Homo sapiens: one gene and its partners. The protein of the gene in region 2 purifies or fractionates together with the protein of the main gene of each other region. This does not show direct contact. Each region holds a gene or a part of one and is shown on either strand. Other genes may lie near its edges.

Region 1 (2,891 bases), on a different chromosome or scaffold from region 2:
AGATTGAATTATGGCCAACTCTAATGGTCTTATTTTAACTTAATTGCTTCTTTAAATGGCCCTATCTGAGTTACTGGGGGTTAGGGCTTCAACACAGAAACACTGGAGGGACACAATCCAGCTCATAAGAGTTGGTACAGAATTTTAGGTTGGAAAAAATTTCCCCTCAGAATTTTGAGTATATTGCTCCACTATCTTCTAGTTTCCTCTGTGTCCTGCTAAGATGATGTCCCTTTTTTTGGGAGACAGGGACTTACTGTTACCCAGGCTGGAGTGCAGTGGTGTGATCTCAGCTCACAGCAGCCTCCACCTCCCAGGCTCAAGTGATGCTCCCAACTCAGCATTAAAGTAGCTGGGACTATAGGTGCGTGCCACCATGCTTGGCTAATTTTTAAAATTTTCTGTAGAGACAGGGTCTCCCTATATTGCCCAGGCTGGTCTCAAACTCCTGGGCTCAGATGATCTTCCCGCATCAGCCTCCCAAAGTGTTGGGATTACAGGTGTGAGCCATGGCGCTTGGCTGATGATGTCCTTAATGCATGGTGATACCTCTGTTCTCTCTCTAGAAGCTTTAGGATCTTTCTTTGCCTCAAAGTGGGGCTATTTTCATTCATTTTGCTGGAACTCAGTGAGCCCTTCAAATCTGCAAAATTGTGCCCATCTTTGGGGAAACTATTTCCCTGATGATTTCTGCTCCTTTGGTTTCTGTGGCTGTTCTTCCCACAAATCCTCTATTATTTAGATGCTGGAATGGAAAGCTTTCTGACTGTGGCCTTCACTTCAGAGATAGTAGTCTAGAGACCTACTGGAGTCGAGCCTCCAGCCTTCTGGGATGGGGGAGGGAGGGTAATGCAGCTCTAACTGCTTAGTAACAGAATTCTGTCTTTAGTCCCTCATTTCTAGAGGTGCCTTTTGAGAATTCCACAATCTACACAGAACTGCTTCTAGGCTTTCTATGGTCTACTAAGGTACCTGGGGCTTCCAAAGCCTTGTAGTTGCCTCCTCTTCCACTGTCTTTCTTACCTCATGACCTTTAGCCACAGCCTTAGTGGGGCTGCAGGATGGAATAGAGCTAAATATGTCTTCAATCCCATCTTTAAACATATACTTCTTAAATACATATTTATGGTCAAACAGGCCTGCTGTGCCCACTGGCCTCCCCTGCCTTCTGTAAATTTGCAACAGTCAGGTCACAGTCAGCCTGGGGGACGTCCCATGCTAAGGTCTTAGGTCGGAGTCAGGCACTGGCTTTTAGTGAGAAAGGCAGCCTGTAGCTGGTGAAGCCTGGATGGTGCCTGAAGGAGGAGCTGGAGGGTGAGGTCTGACTGGCCACTATGTTTGCTCCTCTGAGCCTGAAAGGTCCCAATGCCCAATGCTGTTTCAACTTGAACATTGAGCCCAGAAGTGGTTGTGAGTAGGACCAGGTGTGCAAACTTCACAGTGGTCTCTGTCCCCAACCACCCCAAGTGCTAGAGAAAAGAGTTCAGTAATTGGGATGGCTCCCATGTAGCAGCTGGTCCTGAATGGGTGGCTCAGTACATCTGCCCTCTGCCCTGATCCTGGATCCTCAAGGGTCCAATCCTTTGAGAAAAGGAACCAGGAGAGCGATGGGTCTGAAGCGCTGGTGTTGTAGAAATCCTCATCACAAAGAGGTGACTGCGTTCCAGTTGCTGCCAGGCCTGGCCATATTCCCACAAAGTGCCCATGTCTACAGGATGCTCAGCCCTTGCCTTCCTCTGTCCCGCCACCACCCTGCTCAGCTAGAAGGTGCTGCCTATATTTGAAGTTCAAGGTCTCTGTTGGAAGACGAAGCCCACCCAGGGCACACAGTTCTGTGATAACAGAGCCTGGAGTCGGCTCTAGAGCAAGACAGAGCTCCTGACCCCCATGCTGCAAGTCTTCTGTTTCATACACCCTACACCAGCTCTACAGAAAAAAACAGGACACCAGGGAGCAGAGGGACCCTAGGAAAGGGAAAACATGACAGACACCCTCATGTGGTTTGGCTGCGTCCCCACCCAAATCTCATCTTGAATTACCACGTGTTGTGGGAGGGACCAGGTGGGAGGTAACTGAGTCGGTGGGAGGTAACTGAGTCATGAGGGCGGGTCTTTTCCGTGCTGTTATCATGATAGTGAATAAGTCTCATGAGATCTGATGGTTTTATAAGTAGGTGTTTCCCTGCACCAGCTTTTTCTCTGCCTGCTACCATCCATGTAAGATGTGACTTGCCCCCTGCCATGATTGTGAGGCCTCCCCAGCCATGTGAACTGTAAGTCCATTAAACCTCTTTCTTTTGTAAATTGCCCAGTCTCGGGTACATCTTTACCAGCAGCTTGGAAACAGACTAATGCACACCCCTACTCAGAATGCCAAGAACTTCAGTCATCACTAGCAAATAAATCTCCTCATTACCAACCAAGGAAATACAAGGAAATACACTCACCTCTTCAACCTTTTTGACAAGGGGACGTGAATTTCTGATGAAAGTTATCTTACCAAGTTTAAATTCATAATTGGGAATTCCTCTGTAAGAAGAGACAGAGACAGAGAAATGTTATTTCCAGGAAAAAAGGACTAAAATTCATTTTTGACAGTCAAGAGGAACGCAGAAAAGATGCTGCTGCACCCCACCTGGGCCCTTTGGTGCTTCCTGGCATCCTCCCAGGAGGGAAGCAGAAAGTAACTGACTTCTTGGTTTGGTATCAATATTGGGTATAGGGCCAGGGGCTTTAGGCTCTGTACCTGTCTATGGAGAGGGGTCATCTGAAGGATTGGGAAGCCCTCACTGTCACTGTCCTGAGCTTCACAGAACCCCCTGAGGTGGCTAGACTCTCACTCCAGTATTCTGATTTCACACACACAACAGACAACTGACACACCTCAGCCCT
Region 2 (3,500 bases):
TTGAAAGCAGGGACTTCTGCCAGGCACAGTGGCTCACACCTGTAATCCCAGCACTTTGGGAGGCCAAGGCGGGTGGATCACTTGAAGTAAGGAGTTCGAGACCAGCCTGGCCAACATGATGAAACCCCGTCTCTACTGAAAATACAAAAATTAGCTGGGCATGGTGGCACAGGCCTGTAATCCCAGCTACTTGGGAGGCTGAGGCAGGAGGATCACTTGAACCCGGGAGGCGGAGGTTGCAGTGAGCCGAGATCACACCACTGCACTCCAGCCTGGGCGGCAGAGTGAGACTCTATCTCAAAAAAATAAATAAAAAGAATAAAATAAAAATTAAAAAATGAAAGTAGGGACTTCATCTGTTTTGTTTACTGCCATATCCCAAAACCTAGAACAGTCTCTGGCATGTAGAGGATATTCAATAGATATTTGTTGAAAGAATTCAAAGTCCTGTGGCAACCGTCAGCTGACAGAGCATGAACTTGAATACACCTCAGTTCTCACTGTTCCCTATTACACTATGCCCAATTGGCTTTACTTTTACACTATCTGCCCGGTCTGTGCAGTAACTTAAATTTGAGACCCTTGCTCTAAAAAATGTCTCTCCCAGAGTGTACATCAAGAAGTCCAGAACTCTACAACATAAAATAGAATGGGATTGGTAATAGTCAGACACATATAGCTACTCATAAGCGGATAAGCCATTGTGAAAAACTATCTTTGCCCTTTAGGCTCAAAAAGAGATCTAGTCTTCCTCTAGGCTTTCCTGGGCCTCCATTTTGGCTTTCCCTGAATTGGCCAGTATGTGATATGCTTTTCTGTTAATCTTTCATTAGGGAGTGGAAAAAAATGGATAATTACCATCAAACCTGAGCCAGAATAGAAAACGGAATCTTTACCTTGAAGAAGTCAATGAGAACATCTTTACCTTCCAGCCAAATGATGTTGTGAAGGTATATGTCAGGAGTTGGGGGTGGGATTGCCTTTGGAAAGTTATTTAGTGCTTTTAATTTTTTAAGAAGTACCTAAAAACAAATAATCAAAATAATGGGGATCAGATCCTGTAACAGAAAATGGACACTAGGGAAAAACTAAGGAAATCTAAATAAACTACTGTTAGGCAAGTTTAACCTTGATTGTTGACTCACAGCTTGTCTCATCCTATCTAAATTCCTCTAACCATTTTTGTCCCTAGTCTCCCCTTATTACTATTTTCACTGACTTATTAACTCAGATTGAACCTATCATCTTCATAATTCAATTGACACAGTGGATGGAGAAGCAGAAAAATCTAGTGAGTCTATAGGGAAAGCCAAAGGAAGATGCCATAGAGGGCAACCCTGATAGGAAATGGAGAATCTAGAAAGCTTTCTACATCGCTGTTCAAATCCCTTCCTTAGGCCTTGTCACATATCCTGGCTATTGTGGGTTCTATAAAGTACTCTGCGTCCTTTTGATAAATCCCCCAACCATTTCTTTACTAAACTTAGTTCAAGTTGGTTTCTGTTACTTGCAATCAAGTAGTTTTGACAAATGGAGTGTACCGGATTGCATCGGCATTCGTTGTCCTTTGCATTATCAAAGGCTGAAGGTGATTATAGAGTTAACACCTGTGGTTAAACAATTTTTTCAATCTCCCTCCTTATTACACACTGCTAAAGTAACCATGAAGGCTGGGGTGTTATGCGGACAGAATCAAGCAAAATTACCTTATTTATCTCAATGACTTCATGCTTATCAATAATGCCTCTTGAACAAAGGAAGGTGAGATTTTTTAGAGCTTTAGCAATCACATTCCGGATTGCCTGTTTAGTCTTCAAAGCAATGACAACATCACGACCCTCATGCTCCATGAGTACTACAGCAAAGAAAATAAAATTCAGTAAGTGGCCTATGCAATAACCACAATAACTAATATTAGTATAATACTGTATAATTTCCAAAGCATTTACACAATATTCTTTGATTCTAGTTTCATGCAGAACTCATGAGGTCAGCAGGCAAAGAGTTATTTTCAACTCTATTTTATGGATGAGAAAATTGGAAACTGGCTTCCCCCATCAGCTAAGAGAAAATCACTCTCTCTCTCTTATCCCCATGGCATCTCCTCCATATCTCTATTATGGAACTCATTACATTATCATGTTACTATTTTTACTTCTCTGTCTCATCCTCCATATTGTATAATTTTTGTTGGTTAGACGAATAAATGACACAATGAAAGTACCCCTGGACTTTGGCTGGTGGGTCTTTCTGAGATCAAGGAGCATATTCTTTCCCCTTCAGTAAACCTCAGAAGACATGAACTGGACTGTGAGTCAAGGTTAAAATTGCATCTGTTTCATCTTCATATTCAACATTGAACACAATGCTTGCCATATCGAAGGTACACACTCTTTTCTTTTTAACTAAATGAATTGACCACTAAAGTGAAAGGTAGCAATGATCAAAAGCATAGGTTTTAGTGTCAAATACACCTGGGCTAGAAACCTGGCTCACTACTTACTAGCCATAGGGCCTCAGGCAAATTAACCTCTGTAATAATAGTATTTGCCTCACAGAGTAATTATAAGGATTAAATGAGATAATGTACATAAAGAGTTAGCAGTTCCTGCCATGATAAGCATTCAGTCATCAGTTGCAGTAACCACATGGAAACAAGCACTGCCTTTTAGAGTAGTGAATTGAGAAAACTTTGTAATATTCCATACTGATCTAAAACATAATATAATGCAGCTGTCCTAACCCCTAATCTTTAAAAGCACAGAAATAAAAATCTGTCAACATATAAATGGCAACAATGGGTCATGGGTTTTCTGAGATAATGCCAAAATATTCTAATCTGTTGTCTCTAAACTTACACTTTCATTCATTAGATCACATTCTTTCCATTTTGATTTGGAAAGTGTAACCCCATATGGCATCTTACAATGTGGTCATGAATATGAAATGGTTTTACTTTATTTTCTTTTCTGATAACTTCCATTTATTAAGGGCCTTCCATATGCTGGGCCCTCTACCAGATGCTTTTGCACACACTGACAGCCTGGCCCACAGCCCCCCATGAGAAAAGCTGACCCAAAAAAACTTGGCATAAAATCCCTGGGCTCCTGCTCTGTGCTTCAAATAAAGTGGAGTGACTGTAGATACTCAGGAAATGACATTCGTTGCAGCCCTATGTTCCAGAGTATCTTTGCAAAAAACAAAACAATGAAACAAAACCATTTTGTCAAAGGTAACCTTCACATGTCTTTTTCTTCTAACCTTGAGGACTCTGACCTTGCCACCTTAATACACTTTCCACACTCCTCTCATTCTTTCCTGTACACTCCCATAACAACTAACAGGACTCTGCTAACTTTTTCAATTATCTATTGATACGCTCATACACTCCACAAGATTCTGCACTGTTTAAGGGTCAGGATCTACTCATCTTTGCTTTCCCATACCTGGCCCATTAGCTGTGTTTAATAAATGCTTGTTGAATGCATAAATGAATGAGC
Region 3 (3,500 bases), on a different chromosome or scaffold from region 2:
AGTTGGGTGACACTGAATAAATAGCTATGCTCTGAGGAATGCATAAGAGACAAATATTGTAGCTGGCTTTGAGTAATTTCATGGCGTAATTCTAAACTTTTCCCCATGCTTGGACTATACCCTGAAAGAATGAATGCTGAACTCCATGAAATCAAAGTGAAGCATGGTATATTTTTGAAAATAAGACTTTTGCGAAGCATTACTATAAAGTGATCAGTTTAGGAGAACTGAACTCCAGCATTTTTATTTTATTATCAACTGGCTAATAATTTAAATTTGCTGTGTTATTTTTCTTCATAGGTAAAGAAGAACCCAGTTCAGGATAAAAGTTTGCTGCCAGGAGATGATTTTATTCCTGAGCCACAAATGGCAATTCATATTTCTTCAGGAAATACAATGAATATAACAATATCCAAAAGTTGTCTTAATGTTTTCAACAATTTAGCAAAAGTATGTCTGAATCTTGCTTAGAATATTTCAAGTGGAATTTTAAAATGAAACATATAATTTTTTTGTCATCAAAATTAGTTTCCAAAAAATGTGTAATTATGGTATAGGTTTTGGGAAGAATGTATGTTTTTCAAAAATTTTACTGTGATGATATGTTCCTTTTCAGGGTTTTTCAGAGGGCACTGCTTCTACTTTTGACTACTCTTTAAAGGACAGAGCTCCTTTTACGGTAAAAAATGCTGTAGGTGTTCCCATTAAGGTGAAGCCCAATTGTAATCTCAGAGTAATGGGCTTCCCTGAGAAAAGTGATATTTTTGATGTTGATGCTGGCCAGAATTTGGAACTGGAGTATGCCAGCATGGTACCTTCAAGTCAAGGGAACCTATCTATATTGAGCCGTCAAGAAAGCTCCTTCTTCACTCTGACCATTGGTAGGCTATATTTGTTTTCCTTAAGGGTATCTTAGCAGTTGTTGGTGTGGGCTTATTTTTGATAAAATGTGAAAAAACATTTTGCTGCAGATATCTGGAGATACAACATTTGAAACATATAATTGCTAACCTCTTGTTTCTTGTTTTCTAAACTTGAGAAAATTAAACTTTATTGATTTAAGAAAACTTTACAAAACTAGATTATTTTTGTGCCCTTAAATAATGTATATATTATATAATATATATAAATATTATATATATAATGTGTTTTTAAAAGGATAGGAGTTTACTGAGGAGAGAAAATAGCTATATTCAGAAGTCTTACAGTGTTGACACTGTGACAAAGAAAAAGATTGTTGCTATATGATTGAGAGAATAAGAAATAAGTTGGATTTTGTTTTTATATTCAAAACCCCAAGCAAAACTGTTTTCAGCCAAAAATTTTATAACAGTAACTGGTCTTCTTTTTAAGTTTATGTCTTAGAAAAGCAATTTGTGGTGATCATTTCTAGTGATGAGGAAAAATACTCTTCATTATTTTGAGGTACTAATGATTGTTATAGAGAAACATTGGCAAATTAATATTTGGAATTCTTTTCACTTATGCACTGCCTTAGTACCTCATGGATATACAGAAGTTGCAAATATCCCTGTGGCCAGACCTGGACGGCGATTGTATAATGTACGGAATCCCAATGCCAGTCATTCTGACTCTGTCTTGGTACAAATTGATGCAACTGAAGGGAATAAAGTAATTACCCTTCGCTCTCCTCTACAGGTAATACTTCAAAGTTAATTGTATCCCTTTCAGTGTACCAAGAAATGGTTAAATCATTTAGCTGAATATAGGAATACAGTAAAACTTCATCAGGTCAATTCTGATTATTCAGAAATAAATAGTAATTATTCAGAAATAAATAGTAACAGAAATGGCTTCTATTTACTGTCCAGCTTGCTCTGATAATATTTATTTTAAATGTCTGTAGTTTTGTTTACTTAAAGCTCATTTTTGTTTTCTGTCTTTTAAGACAAATGCAAAATTAATAAAGCTCTTTTGGTATATTCCTTTAAATATTCAGAACCGAGGATTATTGTAATTGTAGTTAGGAAACATTCCATTCTCTTTGTATGTCACTTGGATTATATTTTTCAAGATATGTATGAAGGCATATTGGAATGATCTATCCCTCTGAAAAACATTTTAGCATCTTAATCTGTGTAAATATTTTTTCTACTTTTAAGGTTTTATCCAACATTTTTCTTTTTCTGTGTATTACTACAGGTTTCAGCATATGGTCAACAAAAGAACATTTTTTTTCCTACCTGTAACATCAGATACAAATGAAAAGGTTTCAAATTTTGGACATTGTTATCTTATAGTTTGTTATTTGCTCCAATGCGTAACAGACTGATGTCAAGAAAAGAATTGTACTATTTTTCTCATGATTTTTTGCTATCCATTTCTGTTTAGTTGTTATACATGATACATTGAGAAAAGATTGTCATGGAGAAAAAATGGCTTAAATCTTCAGAGAATAATACATATTTGAAAGATAATATAGACTAATACTAAACATAAGCTTATAATATATGGAGCATTTGAATATCTCAGTTTTCAACTGACACTTAAACATTAAATTTAATATATATAGCACTTAAATACCCTAAAATTTTTCAATTGCCAATAAAAATATCTTCCAATACTGAGTTTGAAATTTTTTAGATCTAAAAGTATTTGTTTGTGGCTCTCATTTTTTCTTTCGAACTTACATATCTTTTAAAAAACTTGTATTTTTTTTTGTCCAACAGATCAAAAACCATTTCTCCATTGCATTTATCATCTATAAATTTGTTAAGAATGTTAAGCTATTGGAGCGCATTGGGATAGCCAGACCTGAAGAGGAGTTCCATGTTCCTTTAGATTCATATAGGTAGATACTTCTTAAATGTATTAAACTTTAAATGTATTGAGTTGGGGATTTATATTCTGGCAAATAACTTCATATTTTTATTAACTAAAGATCAGTAAAAGCCAGTTTTAAGACATAATTTAGTCTTCCATTGAGAAATACATTTATATTATCATTGAATTTATCAGGTGAAAATTCCTGACTGTATATTTGATGTCAGGATTTTTCTGACTATTTTTATTAGATTGCCTTTGTATTTGAAATGAAAATTTTTTTAAGTTGTCTTGTTTACAGAGTTGTTTTTTGTTTGTTTGTTCTTTTCAGAAAGTCCTCCGTAAGTTAGCTATGTGATTTTGGGTGAATTTCCTAACCTTTTTTTTAGCCCTGGTTTCCTCATCTGTATATCTGTAAAAACAGGAATAATAGCACCTATCTTGTAGAGTTGTCAGGAAGATTTAATGAGATGCTTTTTTTTAAGTTGTGGATCAAAACTTTATTGTCACTGTTTCCTCTTTCTGCAGATGTCAATTGTTTATCCAGCCAGCTGGAATCTTAGAGCATCAGTACAAAGAATCTACCACTTATATTTCCTGGAAGGAAGAACTTCATAGGAGCAGGGAAGTCAGATGCATGTTGCAGTGTCCATCAGTAGAAGTCAGCTTCTTACCTCTCATAGTGAATACAGTTGCTCTGCCTGATGAATTGAGCT
Region 4 (3,500 bases), on a different chromosome or scaffold from region 2:
AGGCTGGGCAAAGAGTGGGTGCTTATCAATAACTGGAGAATGAATCAGTGAAAACACCTGGGAAGGTGCGGTCCTCTTCTTTTAGGAGGAAAACACTCGCAGAGCACCTCTGTGACCTAGGGACAGTGGTGACCTAGAGAGTCTTTTGCTGTCCTCCTGGGGTTTAACAGCCCGGTGGGGGAGAAAGATTCATCTCTAGACAGTGACTGTCCAGAACGGGGCAGGAATGCAGGAGCCCTGAGAGGCACCTGGTCCAGTCTAGGGTTCGGGGCAACTTCCTGGAGAAGGGGGCATTGAAGCTGAGACCTAAAACATAGCAAGTTGGTGGCACAAAGGAGGAAGTGAGAGAAGCAGCAGGTGCAGAAACAGAAGATTAGAGGCACAGTCTGATTCTGATGACTGTCCACTGTTCCCTGGGGCTGGAGCCAGGATGCAAGGAGGTGGCTATTGGGGACAACAACAGAAGGAGTCTTATGGCAGGTGCCAGATTCTTCAAGGCTGGGGCTTAGCTGAAAGAGCCTTCCCTGGGCAAACCATTCCTGAGGCCCCCTCTGTGGCCAACCCTGCCCTCCAAGGGCCCCTGGTCCAGCAGGTGGGACAGACACAGAAAAACACAACCAGACTATCAGCTGCTACCATAAGCCACGGCCACAAGACATGTCTGTGACAGCACACAGCACACTAATCCTGAGGCCAAAACTATGACCAGCTCCATCCGGCTGCTGAGCAAAGGGAGGCTCAGAGAGGTGAAGCCACTTGTCTGGTCACTCAGGAAGGACCGCAGAAGCAGAATGACAGAAGGGAAGGGGGGCAGGCAAGGGAGCCAGGCACGGCTTCCCAGAGGAGGACTCTTCACTCAGACACAGAAGGTCACAATCAGAGACTCTCTGAATGCCAGGTTTGGAAGGGGATGTTCTGCTCACCCTTCACGCACCCTGCTAGCTCCCCAGTCCTGTTCTCATTCACCCCTCCTCCCAGCTGTCCCCTCAGCCATCAGCCTTCAAGAGGCAGGACCAGGGCTATCACAGTCACAGTTAGCTCAAGAGCACCAGTGGCACAGAGCAAGGCTGTGATAAACACCTGTGTGGCCACCGCTGCCTGAAGGACTCACCCCGGACGCTCAGGTCACCCAAACCCACTTCCCTCTGAGGCTCCAGTGTCTGGCCCTCTCCTCCACAGCCCCTAGTCCACTCCTCTGCAATGTTTTCTCCATTCACCTTACCCACCAGATAGCAAATGTCCCAGGAGCATGGTTAGAGGGGCTACATGTGTTAAATGTGTCACTTGTCACCTCCTGTCCCCTTCACCAGCAAGAGCTCTTTCCTGTAATCTCCCAAAGCACAGGACACCATTGGAGGGGCTCCAGGGTCAAACAGACCTCAGCTATAGTCCTGGTCCCACCGTTCTTGGCTGTGACACCTTGGGCACATCACTTCACCTCTCTGACCTGTGGACCAGGTTGTGAAAATACTGGAACATTTTAGACAGAAATCTGGGCCCTGCTTACCCAGAGCTGGGGATCTAGAAGGAAACACACTAGAACGGTAAACAGGATAATTAAAAATGGTACATGGAAAACAAGCAGGGGGAAGTGACAGCAACTGAGTTGGGAACAGGGATCCACTTTGGAGTGGGTGGTCAGAGAGGCCTCCCTGAGGAGCTCCCTTTGACGTCTGGGTCGTCTGGGTGAGACCCTTAGGCTGAGACAGAGAAAGCCACATTCTGATGAGGAGATCTATGGGGCGGGGGTCGGCTGGGGAAGGGAAATCAGACAGGCACAAGGCCCCCTCCTCAAGGCCAGCCTAGCTATTGGGAAATTTAGGGGTCCAAGTATGGGTTTCAATGGGTCTGAGCTGATTTGGGGTCAGGAAAGGACACTTGATGCCAGGTCAGGATTTGAAGCTGCATCTGACTGACTCCCAGGTCTCTTCGCTTACCCGTTAGTGATGGGCAATCTGGCTGGGAACCTTCCCACGGAAAGGCAAGTTAAAACCACAATGAGGTGTCACTTCACACCTATTAGGATGGCTATCAGCAGAAAGACAATCACAAGTGCTGGCAGGGATGTGGAAAAACAGGAACCCTCGTATGCTGCTAGGGGGGAAAGTAAAAGTACAGCTACTTCGGAAAATATGGCAGTTATTGAACAAGTCATATGTGCACCTACTACACAATCCAGCAAACCCATCCTGAATGGCTACCCAGGAGGCAGAAAACATGAAGCCAGACCAGGCGCAGTGGCTCACGCCTATAATCCCAGAACTTCAGGAGGCCAAGGCAGGAAGACTGCTTGAGCCCAGGAGTTCAAGACCAGCCTGGGCAACACAGCAAGACCTCATCTCTATAAAAATACAAAAATTAGCCAGGTGTGGTAGTGCATGCCTGTGGTCCCAGCTACTCAGGAGGCTGAGACGGGAGGATCAATTGAGCCTTGGAGAATGAGGCTACAGTGAACCAGGATCACACCACTGCACTCCAGCCTAGGCGACAGAGCATGACTCTGTCTCAAAAACAAACAGTGGCCAGGTGTGGTGGCTCATGCCTATAATCCTAGCACTTTGGGAGGCCAAGGCAGGAGGATCCATTGAGCCCAGGAGTTCGAGACCAGCCTGAGCAACACAGGGAGACCCTGTCTCTCTTACTTAGAAAAAAAAAAAAAGAAACAAAATACAGCCACAGAAAAGCCTGTACATGAATGTTCATAGCAGCATTATTGGCAACAGACAAAAACTAAAAACAATCCAAATATCCTTCAAGGACTGAAAGAATAAACTGTGTCATGTCTGCAGACTACCACTGAGCAGTGAAAAGGAACAACTGTGAGCACGTACTTTAGGATTTCCCCAAAGGCCAAATTTCCCTGATCCTAGGTTGTAAAAAATAAAATAAAAATGAACAACTGCAGATCTATGTAACAACATGAACCTCAAACCCATTATGCCCAATGAAAGAAGCTGGACACAAAAGACTGGATGTTGTTTAGATCCTTGTTTAAGACATTTTTAGAAAATTACAGAGATAGCACCTCTGTGGCTGCCTAGGATTGGGAGCAGCAGAGACTGTAAAAGGGAACTTTTTGAGGGGACAGAAGCTTTCTCAGACCAGACTGTGGTGATGGCTGCACCACACAACTGCATAAATGGACCAGGAGCCAATGGACTCTATCCTAAGAACAGGTGAACGTTATACCATCTAAATTATACCACAAGGCTGGACGTGGTGGCTCACGCCTGAAATCCCAGCACTTTGGGAGGCCGAGGTGGGCAGATCACCTGAGGTCAGGAGTTCAAGACCAGCCTGGCCAACCTGGTGAAACCCTGTCTCTACTAAAAATACAAAAATTAGCTGGGTGTGGTGGCAGGTGCTTGTAATCCCAGCTACTTGAGAGGCTGAGGTAGAAGAATTGCCTGAACCCAGGAGACGGAGGTTGCAGTGAGCCGAGATTGTGGTGAGAAAGCGAGACTCCGTCTCAGAAAAAAGAAAAAAAAAAAAAGAGTCAC

The links. The genes of interacting proteins can lie anywhere in the genome.
Region 1: the proteins of SLC9C2 (region 2) and UFD1 purify together in Homo sapiens (affinity purification with mass spectrometry; one large-scale study listed by BioGRID and IntAct). This does not show direct contact.
Region 3: the proteins of SLC9C2 (region 2) and VPS13C purify together in Homo sapiens (affinity purification with mass spectrometry; one large-scale study listed by BioGRID and IntAct). This does not show direct contact.
Region 4: the proteins of SLC9C2 (region 2) and CLPTM1 purify together in Homo sapiens (affinity purification with mass spectrometry; one large-scale study listed by BioGRID and IntAct). This does not show direct contact.

Annotation. Positions count from the first base shown.
Region 1 is NC_000022.11:19,452,303-19,455,193, forward strand, and holds part of UFD1 (ubiquitin recognition factor in ER-associated degradation protein 1), read right to left. Parts: intron 2,529-2,891; coding exon 2,447-2,528; intron 1-2,446. UniProt on the Homo sapiens protein: Essential component of the ubiquitin-dependent proteolytic pathway which degrades ubiquitin fusion proteins.
Region 2 is NC_000001.11:173,523,073-173,526,572, forward strand, and holds part of SLC9C2 (sodium/hydrogen exchanger 11), read right to left. Parts: intron 1,856-3,500; coding exon 1,707-1,855; intron 1,023-1,706; coding exon 897-1,022; intron 1-896. UniProt on the Homo sapiens protein: Involved in pH regulation.
Region 3 is NC_000015.10:61,917,448-61,920,947, reverse strand, and holds part of VPS13C (intermembrane lipid transfer protein VPS13C), read left to right. Parts: intron 1-300; coding exon 301-450; intron 451-616; coding exon 617-881; intron 882-1,498; coding exon 1,499-1,659; intron 1,660-2,163; coding exon of another isoform or gene 2,164-2,226; exon of another isoform or gene 2,227-2,584; intron 2,585-2,690; coding exon 2,691-2,812; intron 2,813-3,312; coding exon 3,313-3,500. UniProt on the Homo sapiens protein: Mediates the transfer of lipids between membranes at organelle contact sites. Necessary for proper mitochondrial function and maintenance of mitochondrial transmembrane potential.
Region 4 is NC_000019.10:44,958,380-44,961,879, reverse strand, and holds part of CLPTM1 (putative lipid scramblase CLPTM1), read right to left. Parts: intron 1-3,500. UniProt on the Homo sapiens protein: Involved in GABAergic but not glutamatergic transmission. Binds and traps GABAA receptors in the endoplasmic reticulum (ER).